Homo sapiens: one gene and its partner. The protein of the gene in region 2 interacts with the protein of the main gene of each other region in a biochemical or structural test. Each region holds a gene or a part of one and is shown on either strand. Other genes may lie near its edges.

Evidence for each region. The genes of interacting proteins can lie anywhere in the genome.
Region 1: the proteins of NUDT21 (region 2) and TCERG1 form a complex in vitro, tested with the Homo sapiens proteins (one study listed by BioGRID).

The regions. Positions count from the first base shown.
Region 1 is NC_000005.10:146,477,380-146,485,784, reverse strand, and holds part of TCERG1 (transcription elongation regulator 1), read right to left. Parts: intron 7,293-8,405; coding exon 7,132-7,292; intron 5,931-7,131; coding exon 5,874-5,930; intron 5,758-5,873; coding exon 5,691-5,757; exon of another isoform or gene 4,636-5,690; coding exon 4,585-4,635; exon of another isoform or gene 4,339-4,584; coding exon of another isoform or gene 4,215-4,338; exon of another isoform or gene 3,194-4,214; coding exon 3,058-3,193; exon of another isoform or gene 2,246-3,057; coding exon 2,156-2,245; intron 648-2,155; exon of another isoform or gene 535-647; intron 73-534; exon of another isoform or gene 1-72. UniProt on the Homo sapiens protein: Transcription factor that binds RNA polymerase II and inhibits the elongation of transcripts from target promoters. Regulates transcription elongation in a TATA box-dependent manner.
Region 2 is NC_000016.10:56,441,333-56,448,332, forward strand, and holds part of NUDT21 (cleavage and polyadenylation specificity factor subunit 5), read right to left. Parts: intron 6,658-7,000; coding exon 6,457-6,657; intron 5,358-6,456; coding exon 5,294-5,357; intron 1-5,293. UniProt on the Homo sapiens protein: Component of the cleavage factor Im (CFIm) complex that functions as an activator of the pre-mRNA 3'-end cleavage and polyadenylation processing required for the maturation of pre-mRNA into functional mRNAs.

The DNA of each region.
Region 1 (8,405 bases), on a different chromosome or scaffold from region 2:
GAGGCAGAGGCTGCAGTAAGATGAGATGGCGCCACTGCACTCCAGTCTGGGCAACAGAGCAAGACTCCATCTCTAAATAAATAGATGCATAAAATAAATAAATAAATAAATGGCATGAGAACTTTTAACTAGAGATTTTATTGAAAACAGAACACTAGAATAATATTTTCTCTTTTCAAACGTAATTCTATTAAGGAGATACCACCATCAGCTTATAGAATGCTTCAAAAATTGGGAAAGAACTATAGTTCTCAATATGTTACTTCTAATTTCACTATAACACTCAGTACCAGGAGGAATACGTCATAAAAGTTTTAAAGCCTTCAGAGATATTTAGATTAGGCAATGTTCCAGGCACTACAAATAAAGCAATGAAGACAAAGTTTCTAGCCTCATACAATTTATATTTTGCAGGAGGAGGAGACAAATAATAAAAACATAATTTTATACAATTAGAGCCATGAGCACCATAAAGAAATTAGAAAAGGCAAAGAGACAATACTTAGATTGATTAGAAGGCACTGGGACAAGTACCTTAATGAAATGAAGCTGGCTGTACTAACACCTGGAGGAAAAACAGTCCAGGCAGAAGGAATAGCAAACACCAGAATGACTGGCTTGTTCAAGTAATATCAGGGCCAGTGTGGCTGTAATCAACAGACATTAAAAAAGACCATCAAGAGGTATACAGGGGTAAGTCTATGTAGAATATTAGAGACCATGAAAAGAGCTTCAATTTTATTCTCAATGAAATGGAAAGCACTAAACAGTTTTAAGCAAGGGAACAGTGACTTAATTTAGTATCACTTAAACTTTAAAATTAGCCTGGCTGCTGTGTGGAAAAAGAACTTGACTAAAGAGGAACAAGAACAGATGGAATGAAGGAGATCAACAATAGGCTACACAGATGATAAGGGTTGTTTATGGTGGCTTGGATTAGGGTGTTAATGGGGGAAATGATTAATAAAAGGTGAGATTTTGAAAATTTTTTGAAGGTAGATTATAGATTTGCTGATAAGACTGTAAAGGGGAAGTGGGAAAAGTAAGGAATCAAGGCTAATTTATAAATTTTGATAGAGCCATAAACTGAAATGAGAATAAAAAACTCACACAGAGTTTGTTTTTTAAAAAAGATACAAAGCTTAAAATGAAGATGCAAATACATTAAGGAAGTTATGTCTTTCTATTCCAAGTACTAAAATACATATCTGGCACATTGTAAATTTTCTCCCTTCATTCAAGTCCATGATTAGACCTACATGCATAATGGTACACACCATGTGAAGAATTATTTCAATTGTTACATTAAAAATATCAAAGATGGGCACTACTGTTACCAAATGAAATCTTACAGCTTAACAGCACTATAGCAAGTGGTTCCACATACTCACCATTTTATGGAGATCAGTGTCAGGATAGTTCAGGTAATTCAGAAATTAAGTAAGTTGGAAGTGTGCAATGCTTTAGAAGAGGCAATCACGAAATGATATGTGTCACTGAATCATCATGGGAATAAAAAGCAACACTAATTCAACAGGGACCCTTAAGTATCCACTGTTTTTCTGAGTTTATGATGGAAACAGATATTTTAACAGATGCTACTTAGATGTGAACTTTGTATATGCAGTTGTGTATAAGACATAAACCTATGTTCAAGTACTATCTACAGGACACACACACACATATATATGTACATACTGACACATAATGGTCAAGAAGGCTGTTCAGTATTCAATAATAAACCAGTGTTCAACGGTAGTCATATCTATTAGTTGGGATTACAGTAGCTTTTTTATCCTTTTTACTCATCTGTATTTTGCTATTTTTCTACTCTAAATTTGCATCATTGGCCCAAACAAGCAAATTAGTAAATGCATTTGAAATCAATTTTAAAACCATACTACACATAACCTAGGTATATGAGGCATAAGGACAAAATGTTTACAAGACAACAGCCATGCTCATAAGGGCAAAAATATCCAAGAATTTTGAAGTAGAAATGTCCACACACAGACACATAATATGTTCTAAGATGCAAGACTATATTTTTGAAATGCTGTATCAGAAAAAAAAGGGATGGTACTTTATTCCTTATAATTTAAAAACTATGTTGGCAAGAGATATACATTCTTAGTTAATGCCATTTTCCTTTTACCTGTTTTCTCTCTTTAGGATTGAGAAGTAAGTACCGGGGATCAAAAACTATCTTGTGCAACTCCTTCTCCCACGTTGAAAAAGCAGACACCTTTAAAATAAAAACGTATTGCCTCATAATTAAGTCTCCTCTAAAAATATAAAGGTCATAATTTTGCTTGAAATCTACAGGATATCTGTTTATAAAGGAGACATAAAACCATACTGAAGTTTCCATCACTAATAAATGACAAGCAGTGGGAGGCTAGCAATAGCAAATTTCCACACTAATTGGCTCTGAACATTCCTATATTATATAGAAATAACAGACACTTAATTACTCATTAAAATAACTACTACTGTGTGACATTTTAAAAATCAGTACATCAGAAAAAGCCTTGAAGATTTATATTTTGATTTCTCATGCTTGCTCCAATCTTGTGAACAATGTTGTGATTTAAAATTGAACAATTTTACTTATTCAAATGAATCTGTGAATATAACCAAATAGTTGAAATCCCTTCTCAATTAAATTGCAAATAATAATATCACAAAGTATCAGTTCTCCTTTAACAAAAGCCATTCTCAAGATATTAAAGGAAGAATAATCATATATACCTTACCTATCCCAAGCAGTCCGCCATTCTGTAATGTTAATACTCGTCTTATATTACTCACCACAATTTAATGACCCAATAAATGTTAAGTGTTATTTGTACTTAAAAGGACAGTAAAATGGCATTTAGTTAAATATGATAAGATTAGCCAAGAAAAAGGCTGTTGCAAAAAATGTACAGTAATTTTAAAAATCCCCTTATCCCCCCCCATAACATGAGCACTAACCTTAGATTTGACCTTTTAGCAAGACATATTTATATTACTTATACAAAACAGAAATATCTCCCCCAAAGATTGTTTTCTGACCCCTCTCTCTAGCAGCATGTCCTTGAACTGCTTCATTCGAGCCTCCAGAGGGACAATGGCCCTTTCTCGGGCAGCTTTAATTTCAGCTTCCATGGCAGCTTCTTTCTCTGAGTCAATGTCTTTATTATCGTCTCTCCTATAAAAAATAAAATATAAGACATCAACTGACAAAATATTAATTCTCAGATCTTATTAGAAATCTTAAAATCAAAGGAATTTTCAAGACTCACTACTGAGCAGCATATTTTTGGCAAAAACAAATTATATTGAGGGTTTCAAATGAACTCTAAGGGATAAATAACTTTCATAATAACAAAATTAAAATGGGCTTCTAATGATTTACAATGGCTACATTATTAGGAAAAAAATACACCTTTAATGGGCTGTCTCTCCCTGACACTGGTTAATAACATAAAAAGGGAGCAACCTTACTTAAAAAAAAAAAAGTTTAACACTGCAGTAAACCTCTATGTGTCAGAATCAAACAGCACAAAATATAATTTTTTTAGTTCTTGAAATATAGAAAAAACAGTATTTTCCAAAATGTTTTACATTATAAACACATAAAATATTTTGTAAAATCTAATAAAAATTGGTATTAAGTGGTATAATGTTTTAGTAATCTCAAACATTCATTTTAAAAATAAAACTAAAATATCTGCAATCTTGGCCAAGTGAATATGTAAGATATATACCTTACCTACCTGACTTTTTATTACTCACTTTCTGGGTGATAAGTTGAGATTTAAGTTGAAGGACAGGTCCCAGAGAGCAACATGGGCCCAGGAGTAGTTAGGTGGAATTAGAACTGTTCATCAATGACTAAACTACTTCTTGTTCCTCCAAAAATGCACCTCAGGTGTAAGGGCAACCCTGTTTCTGTGTGGTACTCAAGTGAAATTGTAAACATGGAATCACGGCACCTCTCAAATATATGCACTATGAAAAAGGCCCATTCACGTAAATAATCCAAAAAAGTATGTAATTCAATAATATCTGGGTGTATTTTAGCAGATCTTCCTTCTTAAATATGATCTGCTAAGTATATTTTAAAAATTGGCTCTTATTCCCTATACAAACTTAAGGGAATTAGGAAAACAGAACATGTGGAAATTCAAAAGCATGCTATACAGGAAACTGTAGGTAGCCCCAGAGATTTAAATGGAACTAAGGCTAACCCACAAATGCAAGTGAGAGGTACTTAGCAACTTAGGCAATGAATCAAAAGAAATAGAAGACATAGTCCGTGACCTGCAGGAACTTAGCGAGATAGTCTGTGACCTAAGATATGCACAAAACAAACAGGTAAAAGCAATTTGCCAAACAATATACCCTCTTATAATAATAATTTTAAAACTATTTAAATAGTTAGAGTTAAAAGACATCCAAGAAGTAACTAATAAAAACAAATAACCTTTATAGAACTATACTAAATGAAAATGTCACAATACAAACTATCACTATCTATCTCAATAAAGGAAATAAAAGAAAAACTAAGCCAGGAAAAACAGGCTTTTAGCTTTGTACCTAAATAGAGAAGCTCGGGCAATCCACATAAAGGACTTCTTTGACATTCTCCTGATAAAAGCAGTTAAAAACCTTACAGAGTTGTCTATAAGAACAAACAATTAAAAACAACCTAAAAGTTTAACATCGTAGGAACATCCAAAATTATGGTACATAAACAGAATGAATACAGTCATTTATAATAATTAACAAAACAAATGTCTTATTCTAGGTTTTTTTTTTTTAAAAAAAAAGCACAAAATCAGTTAATCACAACTAATAAAAATTACATTTGGTCAAGAACTAAAAAGTCAATTGCAAAAATGAGAATAGCTATGTTACGCTGATAAATTATGAGTGATTCTTTCATATCTTTTATGTTGTTGCCAATAAAGAAATTTTTTTTAAAAGAACTACCCTTTATAGGGGTTGTCCTACTGATTTCTTTGCCATAATTTGGCTGCATTCAATCTGTCCTTTTCAGATAAGGACTACAATTAACCAGTTCCTGTTAATGTCTTCAAACTTTCCTTTTTGCTGCTAAATAATGGTCCCATTCCCCATACATGCATACCCTCTACCCCATCCTTCCCCCCGCCATAACATTTACATTTTACCCAACTCTAGAGCACTGGCCAAGCTAATGCCTCTACTTCTTAGCAGTCTCTTTCTCGCAGAGCACTTCCTAAGCTTATGGGTTCTCTCCTCACCAAGGAGTTAATGACCAGACTCAAGGACTAGGTAAGTCGTAAGATAACCATATAAAGAGGGAGAAGTCTGTGTCTGTTTTTATGAGATCTCTGGAATGGTATCCATTGGGGTCTAAATGAGGGAGGAAACTAACTTTTCATAAAATTGAGACCTAATAAATTTCCAAAAAGAATTAATTCCAAAACTATCATTTGGAGTCATAATACATATATGAATACCCAAATCTTCTACAAATCTAGCAAAAGAAGGGACACATTTTCTACAATGAAAAACAAAGCTATTTATTATCAGGCCTAAGAGAGCAATCATGCCTCCTAACAACATTCACATTACCTGTCCCTTCCAATCACAAATTATTACCAAATCGACTTTTAAAAGATATAATCTACCTCAATCAAATCGTATGTATTACTTACTTCCGTTTTTTTGCTTTAACAGGCTCATCTTCATTAATTTCTTCCATTAATTCTTGTTCCTCTTTAACTATAAGACAAAATTTAATTAAAATATTTAGGAATGAATCCTTCTGCTAATCACTACCAGAACACTTGCTTTAATAGTATTAAAAAGAAGCTGCAATTTATGGTTAGTTCACTCACTTGCACTCATAGAGAATTGCCACTTTTGGATCGACAGCATTGTCGGAGTTGGGTGCCCTGGCAAAAACATTTCAAATATTGTTACAAAGTCATTTGCATATATTTCACAAACTTTTCTTTTTAAAAATTACTGTTTACATAATATATTCACCTCTTAATATTCATCCCTTTATAAAACATTAAACAAAGCATAATTCTACACTTCCTCTATTTATCCTCCCTTTACATTAAATTTAATTCATTTTGAAATGTTTCTTGCCCAAACCTTAAATTTACAAATATATAAAATAAAGCTTTCTTGATTCAGGATTTACAGTACCTTTTAACAATGCACGTTAATGTATTTATCAAATGAATGAATCAAATATTTAAAAACAAATTCACGAAAAACAAAAGAAAATCACATATTGTTTCAACATCATTCAATACCATAGTTATAAAGTATTATTATCATACCTATAAAACAAGTATTGCTGAAGGTGAGCCTAGTACCTTCAGCACTAGATAGGCAAAGCGGCACTGACTCAGAAATTACTTATAATTCAGCATATATATAATGCATGAAAATGTCTCAATGACTATAAATGATACACACTAGGATTTATTTCATTAGAAGCATTAAATAATTCATTTATCTTGCTTCTATACCACTTGCGGGCCACAGTTCTATAAAAACACAATCATATCAACACAAGGGCAAATTACCAATAAGAAATACACAACAAAAATTACGTACAAATATCTGTACTCAATATATTAGTATGCCCTCTGAATATGAGATAGATTAAAAGATAATCTCTTAGTAAGGTTTAGGTGTCTAGTCTCAGGAATATAAGGAGCTTACCATCTAATTCAAAAGATTGAGATTTTGTATTTTTAAAAAATTTGTAATGTATTATTTCAAGAAATATATTACTAGTCACAAAAGGTGCTAAAAGGCCCACCGAGGAGCATTTTAGTAGTATTGATAAGCACTAAGCAAGCAGCAACACTACCAACCATATCTTGGACTAACTGAAAATCTTGAGTAGGACAATAAATTAAAGACACACATATTTTACAAAGCACAATCTTATCCAAATTCTCTCCATATTTTTAATCTCTATTATTTCATTCAAACTAGGATAGCAGTCTATTTTTTTCGAATGCTTCTTATATTCTTTGAAAAATAAAGGGTTTCTAAATGCCTTCCACATTTTCTATCAAAATATGAAAAGAATGTTAAAATCAGTGGATAAATTCCTAATTTAAAACTTACTTAGTTTCTTCAATTCCTCCATTCCTTTTTTATGAGGGGGCTCCTGAATAATTTTGTCAACATCTGCCCTGCCAATCAGATCATCAGGTCGGTCCCACATAGAAAGACGAGTGGTGGGATTATAAAAGAAGACCCGCTCATCACCAGTCCAAACGACACACCTAAGAATTGATGCAAAATATCATTCTCTTATGTTACAGAACATATTTTACAGCTAGGACTTCTTTCAGCCTGTTACAAGTAGGGAGATGAGGGTACTGAAGAACGACATGTTCTTATTACCAATAGTTATTTACAGAGAACCAAACATGGTTTTTACAAGATAACTGAATGACTCAAGCAAAAATAACAGATCAACATATTAACTGAGAAAACCAAGAAATGCAAAGCAATTTGTGATCAGAGATTAAAATGCTTAGGAATTTGGTTTGGCACACTCAATTTGAGAGTACTAAATTTTAAACTATCAGAAAGAATGAGTTTAATGGCAACAATAATGCTATTAAGCAGTTCTAAAGCTAAAGAACAGACATAGCATCCTAGCTACTATAGTTCTTAATATTTCTTAACAAACCAAAACTACATACTGAAATGCAACCTTCTATGAAGACTTTAAGATCTAATTATATCTAAAATAAAAAGTAAAGGGAAGGCCCAGCACGGTGGCTCAGGCCTGTAATTCTAACACTTTGGGAGGCCAAAGCAGGAGGATCACTTGAGCTCAGGAGTTTGAGACCAGCCTGGGCAACATGGTGAAAGGCCATCTCTACAAAAAATATTAATTAAAAAAATTAGCTGGATGTGATTGCACGAGCTTGTAGACCCAGCTACTCAGGGCTGAGGTGGGAGGATCACCTGAGCCCGGGAGGTCAAGGCTGCAGTAAGTTGTGATCGCACCACTGCACTCCAGCCTGAGCAATAAAGTGAGACCCAGTCTCAAAAAAAAAAAAAAAAAAAAAAAGTAAAGTACCAATTGCACTAGGGCATCATACACTGCAGCCCACTACAAGCACTACAAGCCATTGGTCCTGTTAATTACAGTTAGAAAACTCAAAGGAAAAAAAAAACCACAACTACATTCAGACTCTGTATAGTATAGTCTTAATGAATAAACAGAAAGCAATACGGAGGACAGCCAAAATTTAGAGAAACAACTGCAAGGGAGTAAATCTCCCATTTCACCCACCTCGTAGCTCTGCCCTGAGGGTGATCTCTGGTTGCAGAGTGGCATGGTTGCAGTAGCATGGCAGCTAAAACCCCAACAGAAACTAAGT
Region 2 (7,000 bases):
TCCAAGCGACTCCCCTGCCTCAGCCTCCCGAGTAGCTGGGACCACAGGTGCCCGCCACCACACCCAGCTTTTTTGTATTTTTAGTAGAGACAGGGTTTCACCATGTTGGCCAGGATGGTCTCGATCTTTTGACCTTGTGATCCACCTGCCTCGGCCTCCCAAAGTGCTGGGATTACTGGCGTGAGCCACTGCGCCTGGCCTCTTGATTTTCATTTTAAAAACATTTTTTAAAAGCCTATAACCCTCTACTATGAATGAGAATTTAGATATTAAAATCACACATCCTAGTTACACTTTTTCTTCCACCATCTTCCCATTATCAATATTTGGTTAAGTCAATATTCAGTATTTAAGTTAGTATGATCCGGTAGATCAGTCACAACAGAGCAATGATTAGCAAACCGTATCTCCTTACTTGTTCAACTGTCCTATTCTTTAGTTAATAACTTTCATTTCCTTTGCTATCACTAAATTCATTTCCCACATTCTCCATGATAACTTAAATTTCTTCCCAATTCAAATATCAATTGTCAGTTATTCTATTAATTTCATCTTTTCTAAGACATGTTTTTCCTTTTTTCAAGACAAGATCTGTCACCCAGGCTGGAGCGCAATGGCGCGATCTCCACTCACTGCAACCTCCACCTCATGGGTTCAAGCGCTTCTCTCACCTCAGCCTCCCCTGCCCCCAGCCTCCCGAGTAGCTGGGACTACAGATGCAAGCCACAGCACCAGGCTAATTTTTCACCATGTTGCCAAGGGTGGTCTCAAACTCCTAGGCTCACGTGATCTGCCCATCTCAGCCTCCCAAAGTGCTGAAATTGCAGGCATGAGCCACCACACCCAGCCTAAGACACGTTTTTCTATCATCCTGCTGTAATCTGTACTTGATAGTCTCAACCCTGCTTCACAGCTGGAGTCCTTATTTTATTCCATTTTGGGGGTGAACACCCTCTAGTAGCTTCCTGAGAAAAGGTACAAGAGATGTAACTTTTTGAAACTCTGCATGTCTAGAAGTAACTTTTACCCACACACTTGATTTATAGTTTGATTAGAAAATTCTAGGACAGAGATTATATTCTCTCAAAATTACAAAGACAACACTCCACCATCCCTTAGCTTCCAGAATTATTTCTGGGTAGTTTAATGCAATTTCTGATTTTGATGTTTTGCATTTAACCTCTCTGCTTACCAATCCTCCACCTCCCACTTTGGAAGCTTTTACATCTTTTTGTTTTTATTTTCGTTTGTAGGATCTAAAACGTCATGATGATATGCCTTTGCGTGGATCTTTAAACATTCACTATAGAGGCAAGGCCAGTAGGTCTTCTCAATCTCAAAACTCATGCCCTTTGAGGTTTGAGAAATTTTCTCTAATTATGCTTTGCTAATTCTTCCTTTTACTCTGTTCTATTTATCTATAGTTTATATTGGTCCTTCTAGAATGACCCACTAATTTTATCTATTCTTACCTACATTCTATCTTTTTATCTTTTCATTCTATTTTCTGGTAGAATGAACCTCTTAACTCTTTACTGAATTTTTCATTTCTTCCAACATTTTTTTAATATCCATGAGGTTTTTCTTGGCTAAAATGTCTTTTTAATAGCACTGTTTCACAGGTGCAAAATCTCCTCTCATCTCACCAAGAATATTAATCATAGTTTTGTCAATGGTTGAATTTTCTGCTTCTGTTGAGGTCCTTTTGCTTCTTTTGATCTTTTTCTTGTTAAGAAGTTTTCTCCAAAAGCCTGGTGATAGTTGGTTGTGTACTCACAAGGGAGAAGCAACAAGATGCTTAATTGTCACCTCTGTGTGCATGAGTGATAGGACTACAATATTTTTTTTTCTTTTTTTTTTTTGAGACGAAGTCTTGCTCTGTTGCCCAGGCTGGCGTGCAGTGGCATGATCTTGGCTCACTGCAACCTCCACCTCCTGGGTTCAACTGATTCTCCTGCCTCAGCCTCCCGAGTAGCTGGGATTACAGGCACCCGCCACCACGCCCAGCTAATTTGTTTATGTTTGTAGAGACGGGGTTTCACCATGCTGGTCAGGCTGGTCTCAAACTCCAGACCTCATGATCCACCCGCCTTGGCCTCCCCAAGTGCTGGGATTACAGGTGTGAGCCACCGCGCCTGGCCCAGGACTACATTATTTCTATAGAAAATTCTTGCTTTGGTTTGGATATGGTTTGTCTCCCTGCCCCCAAACTCATGTTGAAATTTGATCCCCAATGTGACAGTGTTGGCAGGCAGGGCCTAGTGGAAGGTGTTTGAGTCATGCAGGTGGATCCTTCATGAATAGTTTAATACCCTTCCTCCATCAGGAATGGATTAGTTCCCTGGAGAGAGGGTTGTTAAAGAGTGTGGCTTCCTGGATTCACTCTTGCTTCCTCCCTTGCCATGTCTCTTTGCACATGCCCACTCCCATTTTGCTTTCTGCCATGAGTGGAAGCACCATGAAGCCCTCACCAGCTGCCCAATCTTGCCACCAGAACTGGTGAGCCAAATAAATCTTTTTCTTTATAAATTACCCAGCCTCAGGTATTCTGTTATAGCAACATTAAACAGACGAAGACAGCTCCCAAATGGCAGTATCTGAAGTTTTTCTTGGACTGGTCACTTTTTCCAGAAACAAGAATTCCAACCCTCAGCCTGGGATATATAAATCTAATTGTTGGCTGGGCCTGGTGGCTCATGCATGTAATCCCAATGCTTTGGGAGGACTGCTTCAGGCCAGGAGTTTGAGACCAGCCTGGGCAACATAGCACGATCTCATCTCTATAAAAAACTTTTCTTTAATTAGCCAGGCATCATGGGCACATACCTGCAGTCCTAGCTACTCAGGAAGCTGAGGCAGGAAGATTGCTTGAGCCCAGGAGTTTGTGGTTACAGTGAGCTATGATCACACCACCATCCTCCAGCCTGAGGAACAGAGTGAGACCCTGTCTCTAAAAAAAATAAGTAAGCCTAGACTGACAGTGGCTCACACCTGTAATCCCAACACTTTGGGAGGCCAAAGCAGGCAGATCACCTGAGGTCAGGAGTTCGAGACCAACCTGGCCGACACGGTGAAACCCCATCTCTACTAAAAATATAAAAATTAGCTGGGCATGGTAGTGGGCACCTGTAATCCCAGCTACTCTGGAGGCTGAGGCAGGAGAATCGCTTGAACCCAGGAGGCAGAGGTTGCAGTGAGCAACCATTGCTCACATTGGAGATCACGCCACTGCACTCCAGCCTGGGCGACAAGAGTGAAACTCCGCCTCAAAAAAAAAAAAACAAAAACAAAAAAAAAAAAAAACAAGCCTAATTGTTAACATTCTGTCAGCCTAATAGAGGTCCAAGAGTCTGACTATTCAGAATAGGAACTCTTATTCTCCCCATCCCCTAAACTTTTTTCATTGCTAGTTGTTCTCTGATTCAATTACTACAGAGAATCATCAGCCAGTCTTTGCCTAATTACAGAGTGGGGAAGACAATCTAGATACACAGGTTGAACATCCCAATCTGAAACTCCAAAATCTCAAACTTTTTGAGCACTGACATGATGCTCACAGGACATGCTCAGGCCGGGCGTGGTGGCTCATGCCTGTAATCCCAGCACTTTGGAAGGCCAAGACAGGCAGATCACCTGAGGTTAGGAGTTCTAGACCAGCCTGGTCAACATGGTGAAACCCTGTCTCTACTAAAAATACAAAAATTAGCTGGGCGTGGAGGCAGGCACCTTTAATCCCATCTACTCGGGAGGCTGAGGCCGGAGAATCGCTTAAACCCGGGAGGCGGAGGTGACAGTGAGACAAGATTGCACCATTGCACTCCAGCCTGGGTGACAAGAGAGAGACTTCGTCTCAAGAAAAAAAAAAAGGAAATGCTCATTGGAGCATTTCAAGTTTTGTATATGGGATGCTTAACTGGTAAGTATAATGCAAATATTCCAAAACCTGAAAAAAATCCCAAATCCTAACCACTTTTTTAATTTTTAATTTTTTTGAGTACACAAGATGTTTTGATACAGGCATGCAATGCGTAATATTCACATCATGGAGAATGGGATATCCACCCCCTCAAGCATTTATCCTTTGTGCTACAAACAATCCAATTATACTCTTTTAGTTATTTTTAAATTTACAATTAAGTGATTATTGACTATAGTCACCCTGTTGTGCTATCAAATAGCAGCTAAACACTTCTGGTCCCAAGCTCTCAGATAAGGAATACACAACCTGTATAAATATACTCCATATATACTTTGAACCAGTCCAGTTTTCAGCCCATGCATGCCCCCACTTTCATAAGTACCTAGCACCTTCAGTTCCTCAGTCATTCTGGTACTCTGCAATGCTAGATTCTGCCTGCCTGTCTGCTGGACTAAGGTTTCTGCTAAGTTAGTTATAATTTGCCCATCTGTTTTCCAGTTTCCAAAAATTTTGCTTTTGTGATTCTCTCATTTTGCACTCCCTCAACCTTAATGGACTTATATCTTTGTACCATACATTATATAAATGGAAGTCCAAGCACAGGAAAATGTTTAAGAGTTATAATACATTTTTAGAAATACTAGAAAGACAAACCAATAGGTCAAAAGTGGGAGAATTACGGGTGACTTTAGTTTTGTTTCTCCTTTGCTTTTCTGTGTTTGCCAAGCTTTTTGCACAGAGAATATATGAGCTTTGTAACAGGGGCAGGCGGCAATTGAATGTTAAAGAAGAAAACTAACATTGAAAACAATTTACAATCTCAAAATCCTCAGTATCTATGCATTTGGCCCCAAGTCTTTACATGCAGGCATTACAATGATTTTTAAAAAGTAGAATAATTTGGGCAAAGTCTAAAAAATATGTGAAAAAAGTGAAAACACAGGCATCTTTCTCTTTTCAAAATTCTATAGAGGCCTACTCTTGAACAAAACTACCTGCATTCAAACCTCTGGCTCTACAACACACTAGCTATATAACAAGAAGTAATTTAAACTTAATAATATCTACTTCCTACAGTTGTGGTGGTGATTAAAGGAATTAGCGCATGTAAAGCACTCAGAACAGTGTCTAGCACAGTAATACTTAAATGTCAGTTTTAATTTACCATTGCTGTGACACAGTTTAACATTTTAAAAATTGAAATAAGTGTAACTTCAACTTGTAAAAAAAAATCAACATTGTACTAACCTTCTGGAGTTTAAGTTGTATTTATTGAAAACTAAATATTCCAAAATAAGCATCCTTTTTACAAGACATTAAAAGCCAAATAACTAGTAAGTTGATGGTATTCAAAGTGGTTAAACAGAAAAATACCTCTGTCATTAAGCGTTTTAGTCCTTCAACTTCATCTTCTCCTGGGTTAAGTTCACCACCAGGTCTGTATAAAAGTTAAGAATTTCAGCTTTCAACTTAATACAATTTGGAGATAACAAATAACACAATAATTGTTATTTCTACCAAGTCACTAAGAACATATTTCAGCATAATAAGGCAATCAAAACAAGTATCAAAGTGAAGGGGGAGAATATGCTTGAATTCATGTCAATTCCCCAGACTAACAGTATACAAACCCTAGGTTTTTTTCCTCTTCGTATATATTTATTTTTATTTTATTGTAGATTCAACGGGTACATGTACAAGTTTGTTACATAGGTATATTGTGTAATGCTAAGGTTTAGGCTTCTAGTGAACCCATCACTGAAACAGTGAACATAACATCCAATAGGAAGTATTTCAACCCTCGCCTCCCCCTCACCCTCCCCACCTTTGGAGTATACAGTGTTTATTTTTTCCAACTTTATGTCCATATGTACCCATCACATAAACCCTAGTTTTAAACAAACAGAATATATAACATAGCACAAACATAAACAAAATTGCTAACCACCAGTCCATCCCAATCTCCTCTCTGGGAGCTATCTGATGATAATGGAGTCTAGAAATGCTCAGAGAGGAATGGATCACATTCTTTAGGCCTAAAGAATGGGAAACTTTTTCAAGAACGTCATCTAAGTATTGGAGACTTTTCTTTTTGGTATAATCTAGTCAAATAGTTACGGATCAAATGTTTGAGAGATGTAGGAGCTTAAATGATAAAACACTAAACTGTTATCCACAAAAACCTAAGTCATCTTAAGAACAGGAAATGCTAATCATACCAAGAAAGAAATATCAATTGTTCTTGGTAATGCTACAATGACATCTAGACATTGATCTTGGACTCAACTATTCCATGGGGTTTCTACCAAGCTCAATCATTAACATCAACAACATACAGAAACATACAGATTACTAGTTAGGAAAATAAATGAGCACTGCAATGGAGAAAAATTACTCATGATTTTCTCTTTCTAAAGACATCATTAACAGCAGTGTTTGTTGAAATGAATGACCGAGGGCTAAAATTGTATTCCAGAGCTGCATAAACAGCAATCCTACTAAAAACTGTCTTGCTGTTAATTTCCAACACTACTTACAGTTTGAAGAAAGTTGTTCCCAGCTGCAGCAGTAACACATGGGGTAGCCGGTGCTCATGTACAATCAGAACCCCTTCTACAGTCCTCCTCATTCCAATTTTATCAAATTCTTCCCTCATGCGCTGAAATCTGGCTGCAACAGAGCTGTCCTTCTCGTAGAGGGGCTCTTTTGTACCAAAAGTATAATTGGTAAGAGGGTACCTGTGATCCGAAGACAAACATCTAACATGAGAACTGAAGAATGTAATTTACCATGACAGACATTAGCATAAAGAAACCATGGTACAAAAAAAGTGCATATATTGTACTCAGACACAGGATTTGTACAGTTAACTAAAGTTAATGAAACAGCAGAGACTGGAATCTTGCTCTCTGGACTCTTAAAGCCAGAGCTTCCATTAGATCAAGCTGCTCCTCCATACTTTAACTTTCAAGTGTAGATAACACTATCCTTAAATGCTTAGAGAAATGGTTATCTGAACATTAGTAATCCTCTGGTTTTATACCATGGCTGCTATTTCAACATTACCAATTTGGCTAATAA